Linked DNA regions of Homo sapiens. The protein of the gene in region 1 purifies or fractionates together with the protein of each later gene. This does not show direct contact. Each region holds a gene or a part of one and is shown on either strand. Other genes may lie near its edges.

The links.
Region 2: the proteins of LUZP1 (region 1) and CNN3 purify together in Homo sapiens (co-immunoprecipitation; one large-scale study listed by IntAct). This does not show direct contact.
Region 3: the proteins of LUZP1 (region 1) and ZNF808 fractionate together in Homo sapiens (co-fractionation; one large-scale study listed by BioGRID). This does not show direct contact.

Annotation. Positions count from the first base shown.
Region 1 is NC_000001.11:23,083,526-23,086,350, forward strand, and holds the end of LUZP1 (leucine zipper protein 1), read right to left. Parts: 3' UTR 505-2,825; downstream 1-504.
Region 2 is NC_000001.11:94,906,470-94,910,130, forward strand, and holds part of CNN3 (calponin-3), read right to left. Parts: intron 1-3,661. UniProt on the Homo sapiens protein: Thin filament-associated protein that is implicated in the regulation and modulation of smooth muscle contraction. It is capable of binding to actin, calmodulin and tropomyosin. The interaction of calponin with actin inhibits the actomyosin Mg-ATPase activity.
Region 3 is NC_000019.10:52,554,124-52,556,869, forward strand, and holds the end of ZNF808 (zinc finger protein 808), read left to right. Parts: coding exon 1-1,505; 3' UTR 1,506-2,213; downstream 2,214-2,746.

The DNA.
Region 1 (2,825 bases):
AATGACCTAGAGCACAGGGAGGAACTTGTCCATTAGTTTGGAATTGTGTTCTTCGTAAAGACTGAGGCAAGCAAGTGCTGTGAAATAACATCATCTTAGTCCCTTGGTGTGTGGGGTTTTTGTTTTTTTTTTATATTTTGAGAATAAAACTTCATATAAAATTGGCCCTCTCTTTTGTTCCTTTGAGTTGGAGTTACATACAAGATGGGGGCATTACTCCTTTGGAAATGCCAAGTTTATCCTATGGCAATAGTAATACATGTTTTCTCCATGTTTAAATAAGGAAGAAGATGTTCATATAAAAGAGAAAAATGGTTTGATCAGGTCAGAAGATAAGGTAGGGGGGCCGGTCCTGTAGAAGCAGTGGACTTCCTGGTCAGTCGGACTAGGCTTCCTCACTTGGGTGGGGGTGGAGTGTGGTGGTGTGCCAAGAACATGGTTATTAGGAAACTTTGGATGCACTTTCAAGATAGAACACAAAAGAGCTGAAACAAAGTCTGAGCCTTTGGGAGACCAGTCTGCCTTTATTCCTGATTCCCTCCATGGGTATGTGCTAAAACTTCCCAATTCTACTAAAGGTGGTGGTGTACATTTTGGGAAGCGCACTACATAGGATCAAGGGCTTAGGTAACAGCTGGTTTAACAGATTGCCACAAACTTAGTGGCTCTTAAAAAAACAGAAATCTATTCGAAAGTTCTGGAAGCTTAAAGTCTAAAATGGGTACACAGGGCTGCATTCATTACAGAGGCTCTCAGAGCAGGGAGGATCAGTTCATTTCCTTGCTCTTTTCAGCTTCTAGGTGTGGGAAGGCTCGTGGCTCCTTCCTCCATCCTCAGAGCACATAACTCCAGTTTCTGCTTCCATCATCACATTGCCTTCTCCTGTAGTCAAATCTTTTGTCTCTCTCTTAAAAGGATACTACCTGTGATTACATTTAAGGCCCACCTGGATCATCTAGGATGTTCTGCCTCATCCCAGCATCCTTATCTGCAAAGTCCCTTTTGCCATATAAGATGATAAAAACATGTTACATGCTGGTTCCTTCCCAGGGGCTCCTGACTGACTGACAGATAGATGATAAACACTGTTACTGCAAATCCAAGTAATGTCCCTTAAATGTGGTTTTATTCTTTCTTACTGTGAGTTAAGGGACATCATTATATATATTGGTGATCTGACTGGAAGATGAAAACGGAGAAGGCTTTTCCCCCCCTAGTCTTAGAATTCGTGGCAGTAATGGAAAGAATCTGCACACCAGGATCAGGGCAGTTAATGTTTCCAGTCCTTGCAGTATCAGTAATTGGTTAGGTAAAATACCCAATTTTAAGTATTACACAATGAAATAAATAAATATACTAGAGCTGCGCCAACGCATAGAAGACAGATGATACACAGGGATGACATTGACAAAACTGGCATCACAGACTCGCACAGAGTATACGGAAACGAGGGAGCTTTATTGGTTACATATTGTACTGCAGAGCCAACAGAGAGCATTCGCGCCAGAGGATACATGCAGACAGGCAGCTCCAATGATACACATGCACCCAAGGAGCCCTGAGCCACTGCTTTGCCCTGGTTTCCAGCGACAGGTTCTGGCCTCCTTGGTCCCATGCTTGGAGCTGCTGCACCTAGACTCTAAGGGGCAGGGGTGAGAGAGACCAGAGCACCTGCCTGAGCAAGTAGGTGTGGACCAACAGGCTGCCCCCAACAAAGGGGCCTATAATGCAATAACAGTTTATTTGAGGGCTACTTTCTTAGCCCTCTCAATCTTTAAAATACAAAAAAATAGACTTTATTCTCTTAAAAATACATTCCATTCAGTATATGTTCTGAGCTGGGAAGCAGCAGGAAAATAGGGCCCCTTTCCTATGATCCTATGGTTGTGAGGCTTTGAGGAGAACCCTGCTCCCCACTCGGGGTATTCAAAAAATAATCCCTAAAAGCAGCTCTTTCCAAAGCAATCTTGTCAGAGAAATAACAAAACCTCATAACAAGGTAGCCAGGGACCCAGCCTCTGGGTCCCCATTCCTTTATTGGGAAGTGGTAGCACTTGGCACTGACCCACTAAATATAAAGAACTAAAACTGCCCCAGGACGACAAGTCCAAGAACACTATAGTGCCCCCTGCATCCCGAACACTCCACTGACGGGGGTTATTTATGTGCAAGCTTGCCTACAGCTGAGGGTGGGGTGGCATCCTTGGCCCCACTGCAGATCCCTTTAACCCACACTGTGACTCTTTCTCATTGCCACCCAAAAGCAAAAAACAGCCACAGCTTCTTTATCCACCTGCAGCTTTCTCTGGTTTAGTATCAGAGTGGCAAAAAAAGCAGCAGCACGTGGAAGAGATCAGCTGCTGGTACTAAGCCAGCTTCACTTCCTCCAACCAAGCAGCTCTATTGCCAGGTCCCCCAACTCACTAGGAACCCTCCAACAACCATACACCTGCCAGTAAAATTTAAGAGCCAAGCTGCGGAAGAAAACTGTCATAAAAGTGGGTTTGTTGACCGGGGGCAGTGGGACTATTTGGCTTGATTAAACAACTATTCAACTACCAGGTCTCCCCTCTACTTGGAGGCTTCCTCCAGGACCCCTGATGATGAGGCCTGGGTCCAAACAGTCACACCTCAGTTGCTTTTCAGAAACATGCCTCCCAACTTTGGGATTTGAGAGCCAGCCTTGCCAGCCATTTGAAGCCCAGAGAAACAGCCTCCAGCCTTTACTTGCTATTACAATGTTATTTTCTGCAATGCTGAGGACACTTAAAAATAAAATCTATCTAGAAAGTGTGCAGATTAAAGAAACAAAATATCCTGAAATA
Region 2 (3,661 bases), about 72 Mb from region 1:
TTTTTTTCCCCAAAAGTGAGGGCGTTCTCAACTAGGAGATATATTTTGATCAATCTGAAGAAAAACATAATATGCTAGGGTGAGAGGAGTTCTGCCTTGGCGCCATGCCTGGCTCCATCTATCTTTGCTATGGGCCTGGGTTAGTTCCTCTAACTTCTCTCGATCCAAGAGGAAGTCTAAACTGGATGCCTGCACTAGGTCCGTTCCTACTCTCAGCTATCTACACAATTTGGTCAAATAATAAAAAACTGAAGAAGTATTTTCTCGTTTCTTCAAATGTAGAGAAAAATTATGTTAGAGTAGTTTGGGATATTTCACAGGATGGTGATGGTAATTCTCATACCAAATGACATCAATTAATATTTAAGCAGAAAAACATTAAAAGCATATTTATGCATCCTTTGTTCAAAATGTGTCCAACAGATTTGGTGCCATGCCCCAAACCACGAAGTGACTACAGACCTAACTTGAAATATCCTAGTAGATCCCAGTAAGAAGTTTTCACCTTCTCTGTTGACAGTTCTTGTCAAGGAAGTGATGAGATAGAAAAATCAAGCACTGGAGTCAGATGGACCTCAGTTCAAATCCTGGCTCTACCAATGAGTGGTTGTGGGGGGGAGCTCTGGACAGGTGATGCTGTCCTTGAGACTTACCATATGACCACGTGCACAGAAGAAATTCGTATGTACAAGCATGCAAAACTCAAAGCCCCATATGATCAATTAAAAATTAAGACTAGGAATGCAGCCACATCAAATAACTGTTGGTGTGGGCTAAGGGTTTCCTTTAAGTAAAGGAGCAACAGGATTCTCCTATCCAAATACTTCGAATATTTTTCTAGTAAGTGAGCTTTATGCAGTCAGGCCAGCTAAACAGCATTATCTTTTAAAATCAAGGAACTGAGAGCAATTTAAAAAAGTAATCTTTGGCCAATAAAAATGATTTACTATCTTCATCTAAAAAGCTTTAATTTCTCAACATCTGGCAGAAAAACGCTGACATTTTCTTTCTCTCAACAAAAGAAAGTTAGCTTAAAATAATTGCTTAAACTTACCTCATTAATACTTCATGGAAATTTCACTCTAATTTACTTAAAAATTACTCTTCCTGACAGGGCGCAGTGGCTCACGCCTGTAATCCCAGCATTCTGGGAGGCCAAGGTGGGCAGATCGTGAGGTCAGGAGATCAAGACCATCCTGGCTAACACGGTGAAACCCTGTCTCTGCTAAAAATACAAAAAATTAGACGGGTGTGGTGGCGGGCGCCTGTAGTCCCAGCTACTTGGGAGGCTGAGGCAGGAGAATGGTGTGAACCCGGGAGGCGGGGCTTGCAGTGAGCTGAGATGGTGCCACTGCACTGCAGCCTGGGCAACAGAGCAAGACTCCGTCTCAAAAATAAGAAATAAAAATAAAATAAAAATTACTCTTCCAAGTTGTTGATAAACATCCTTTTCTTTATTCTTCTTCAAGATTTATTTTCTTGGCCTTCCCAAGCTGCTTTCGCAGACTTTCTGCCTGGCTCTTTCAAATCCACAGCAGCCCCTCTCTTTATATGCCCACCTTCCTTTCTTAAACACGCACACATTCTCCAAGCAGTGCCTGACAGCCTTCTTTGCATCAAGGAGCACTTACAAATGATCCAGAGACCGAGGAGAATACTGTCTAGGCACACCTGCTGGAGACTCCTCCCCGAAACTCTCCAACATCCCTCTAGCCAGATACAATCAACATGTGAAGATAATGAAGACCAAGAAAAAAGCCTCCTAGGGCATAGGATACAGCTGATCCTCCTCCCTACATTCAGCGATTGGCCTGCTCTGCTCTCGCTCCTCCGACAGCTTCACCTGCTCCTCTTCATGTTCCTGTGCCTGGGTCCAGGGCTCATCCTGTTGTGGTCGTGGTGGCGGCTTCAGCCCTTAGAGCTTCCCTTGGCTCTCTCCTCAGGACAGCTAAGAGCACCAGTGTGGAGTCACCCTTCAGTTCAAATGCAGATCAGTCCTTTCTTGTTTCATGACCTTTCTTTAGCCCTCACTTTCTTTTGTAATTCTAAAATAATAATTGGTTTTTTGTTGTTGTTTGTTTGTTTTTTTGAGACGGAGTCTCGCTCTGTCACCCAAGCTGGAGTGCCATAGCGTGATCTTGGCCCACTGCAACCTCCACCTCCCGGGTTCAAGCGATTCTCCTGCCTCAACCTCCTGAGTAGTTGGGATTACAGGTGCCCACCACCACACCCAGCTAATTTTTGTATTTTTAGTAGAGATGGGGTTTCGCCATGTTGGTCAGGCTGGTCTTGAACTCCTGACTTCAGGTGATCCGCCCACCTCAGCCTCCCAAAGTGCTGGGATTACGCCCAGCCAATTCCAAAATAATAATTTTTTTAAAAAAATTAGGCTGGGCCAGGCATGGTGGCTCAGGCCTGTAATCCTGCAACTTTGGGAGGCTGAGGCAGGAGGAATCCTTGAGCCCAGGAGTTCGAGACCAGCCAGGGCAATATAGGGAGCCCGTCTCTTTAAAAAAAAAAAAAAAAAAATAGGCCAGGTGGGTGGCTCATGCCTGTAATCCTAGCACTTTGGGAGGCCAAGGCAGGAGGATTGCTTGAAGCCAGGAGTTCCAGGTTGCAGTGACTGATAATCATGTCACTGCACTACAGCCTGGGTGGCAAAGTGAGACTCTGTCTTTAAAACAAAAATAAACAAATAAATGATATACAAGTATGTAGCGCATGCATTCTCAACAGGGGTGGTGGTGTCCCAAAGAGGTGAAAAGTGTTTCTTGTGGTGGTTTCTACCAATGGTGAAAAAAATCTTAAGACAATACAAAAACTTGGGACCCTCCAAAGCTCAACTCTACCCAACAAAATCTTATTCCTTTGTACTAAATCTAGCAAGGGATAGGAGGTAACTAGGAACAATGTCTAAAACAACTCTTGGAGAAGGTGATCATGAAAACAAGGTTAAGAAACACTGAGATAACACTAAAATGTACAAGTCTCTCCCCCCACAAATCACACTCCATTCCCAGAGGGAAGGGCCTATCCTTCAGCCAATTATTCTTCCAGCCCACAGGCACACATATCACATATCACTATTAATCATATATCCAAGAGCTCTGGACTAAGACCACCTTCAGAAACACAACCCCGAGGGCCTATGTGTCCTAACAGTGAAGGCAGACACTAGAGCAGATACAAGCCTACCAGCTGCTGGGAAACAGCCATGCCCCTCCCTGGCTCTGAAATTTGAGAAGCTTCCCCCTAAGAACCCTCAGAAAGGGAGAAAGAGTAAAGGGAGACCTAGCTTCAAAAAGCACCTCCACAGCTGACCCAAAAGCTCGATTCCTGCGCTGTTGAATGGTACTTCTCGGTGTACGCCGAGAGCATTCAGCTCAAGTACCATTTGAAAAAAAGATGGGGGCACATCTGCCATGAGGTAGAGTGATGACATTCATGTACAAGAACTGTCTGATGCCCCCATTACACCCAGGACATTCCAGAATCTACTGAAGAATGAAGACTGCTTGTTTTTCACATGGATTCCTTCTCACAATGTATTATCATCACAGAGCTTGTTCAAACCTGGAAGCAGACAATTCCTGGTTATTGTCCCCAGTGATTACAACAGTCTCCCTAATTTCAGCTGTGGCTCCCCGTTTTGAGCCACCAG
Region 3 (2,746 bases), on another chromosome or scaffold:
AGTGTGGTAAGGCTTTTAATCATCAATCAAGCCTTGCACGTCATCATATACTTCATACTGGAGAGAAACCTTACAAATGTGAAGAATGTGACAAAGTTTTCAGTCAGAAATCAACCCTTGAGAGACATAAGAGAATTCATACTGGAGAGAAACCATACAAATGTAAGGTTTGTGATACAGCTTTCACGTGTAATTCACAGCTGGCACGACATAGAAGAATTCACACTGGAGAGAAAACTTACAAGTGTAATGAGTGTCGCAAGACCTTCAGCCGCAGGTCATCCCTTCTATGCCATCGTAGACTTCATAGTGGTGAAAAACCTTACAAGTGTAATCAGTGTGGCAATACCTTCCGTCACCGGGCATCCCTTGTATACCATCGTAGACTTCACACTCTAGAGAAATCTTACAAATGTACGGTTTGTAACAAGGTTTTCATGCGTAATTCAGTCCTGGCTGTACATACTAGAATTCACACTGCAAAGAAACCTTACAAGTGTAATGAATGTGGGAAAGCTTTTAATCAACAATCACATCTTTCACGTCATCGTAGACTTCATACTGGAGAGAAACCTTACAAATGTGAAGCATGTGACAAAGTTTTTGGTCAGAAATCAGCTCTTGAGTCACATAAGAGAATTCATACTGGAGAGAAACCATACAGATGTCAGGTTTGTGACACAGCTTTCACGTGGAATTCACAGCTGGCACGACATACAAGAATTCACACTGGAGAAAAAACTTACAAGTGTAATGAGTGTGGGAAGACCTTCAGTTACAAGTCATCACTTGTATGGCATCGTAGACTTCATGGTGGAGAGAAATCTTACAAATGTAAGGTTTGTGACAAGGCTTTCGTGTGTCGTTCCTATGTGGCAAAACATACTAGAATTCACAGTGGAATGAAACCTTACAAGTGTAATGAGTGCAGCAAGACCTTCAGTAACAGGTCATCCCTTGTATGCCATCGTAGAATTCATAGTGGTGAGAAACCTTACAAGTGTAGTGAGTGCAGCAAGACGTTCAGTCAGAAGGCAACCCTTCTATGCCATCGTAGACTTCATAGTGGTGAGAAACCTTACAAGTGTAACGACTGTGGCAATACCTTCCGTCACTGGTCATCCCTTGTATACCATCGTAGACTTCATACTGGAGAGAAATCTTACAAATGTACGGTTTGTGACAAGGCTTTCGTGCGTAATTCATACCTGGCAAGACATATTAGAATTCACACTGCAGAGAAACCTTACAAGTGTAATGAATGTGGAAAGGCTTTTAATGAACAATCACACCTTTCACGTCATCATAGAATTCATACTGGAGAGAAACCTTACAAATGTGAAGCATGTGACAAAGTTTTCAGTCGCAAATCACACCTTAAAAGACATAGGATAATTCATACTGGAGAGAAACCTTACAAGTGTAATGAGTGTGGCAAAGCCTTTAGTGACCGGTCAACACTTATTCACCATCAGGCAATTCATGGTATAGGGAAATTTGATTAATATAATGATTGTCACAAAGTCTTCAGTAACACTACAACAATTGCAAATCATTGGAGAATCCATGATGAAGAGAAATCTTCTGAGTGTAATAAATGTGGCATGTTTTTCAGACATTGTTCATACATTGCAGTTCATTGGCAACCTCATACTGGAGAGAAACCTTACAAATGTCATGATTGAGGCAAGGTCTTCAGTCAAGCTTCATCCTATGCAAAACAGGAGAATTCATACAGGAGAGAAACCTCACAAGTGTGATGATTGTGGCAAAGCCTTTACTTCACATTCACACCTCGTTGGACATCAGAGAATCCATACTGGACAGAAATCTTGCAAATGTCATCAGTGTGGCAAGGTCTTCAGTCCGAGGTCACTCCTTGCAGAACATGAGAAAATTCATTTTTGAGATAACTGTTCCCAATGCAGTGAGTATAGCAAACCATCAAGCATTAATTGACATTGGAGTCAATTCAGCATTGACTTGAGTTTGTGTTGACTTAACATTGAGTTCAAGCCTTAATTGACATTCAAGTGTTTATGTTAAGAGGATGGGGCCAGGTGTGGTGGCTCAGGCCTGTAATCCCAGCACGTTGGAAGACCAAGGCACATAGGTCACTTGAGGTCAGAAGTTTGAAACCACCATGGCCAACAGATGTCGGCCACTTTCGCCATCCTGTTTTTTGTTTCTTATTTTCTTATTTATTTATTTATTTATTTTGAGATGGAGTGTCACTCTTGTTGCCCAGCCTAGAGTGCAATGATGTGATCTCAGCTCACCACAACCTCCGCCTCCCGGGTTCAAGCGATTCCTCTGCCTCAGCCTCCCTAGTTGCTGGGATTACAGGCATGTGCCACCACACCCGGCTAATTTTTTGTATTTGTAGTAGAGACGGGGTTTCTCCATATTAGGCTGGTCTTGAACTCCCAACCTCAGGTGATCTGCCCACCTTGGCATCCCAAAGTCCTGGGATTACAGGCATGAGCCACCGTACCCGGTCTTGTTTCTTATTTTCTATTTTTTATTTTTTTGAGAGGCAGGAGAATGGCGGGTGAACCCAGGAGGTGGAGCTTGCAGTAAGCCCAGATAGCACCATTGCAACTCCAGCCTGGGAGACAGAGTGAGACTCCGTCTATTAAAAAAAAAAATTATAAATAAAAAAATGTATTTTAACCAGTTAGTCTGGTTTTCAGTTTCCTTTCCTTATGTCATTTGTTAAAATCTTCAGCTGGGAGCTATTTATTGC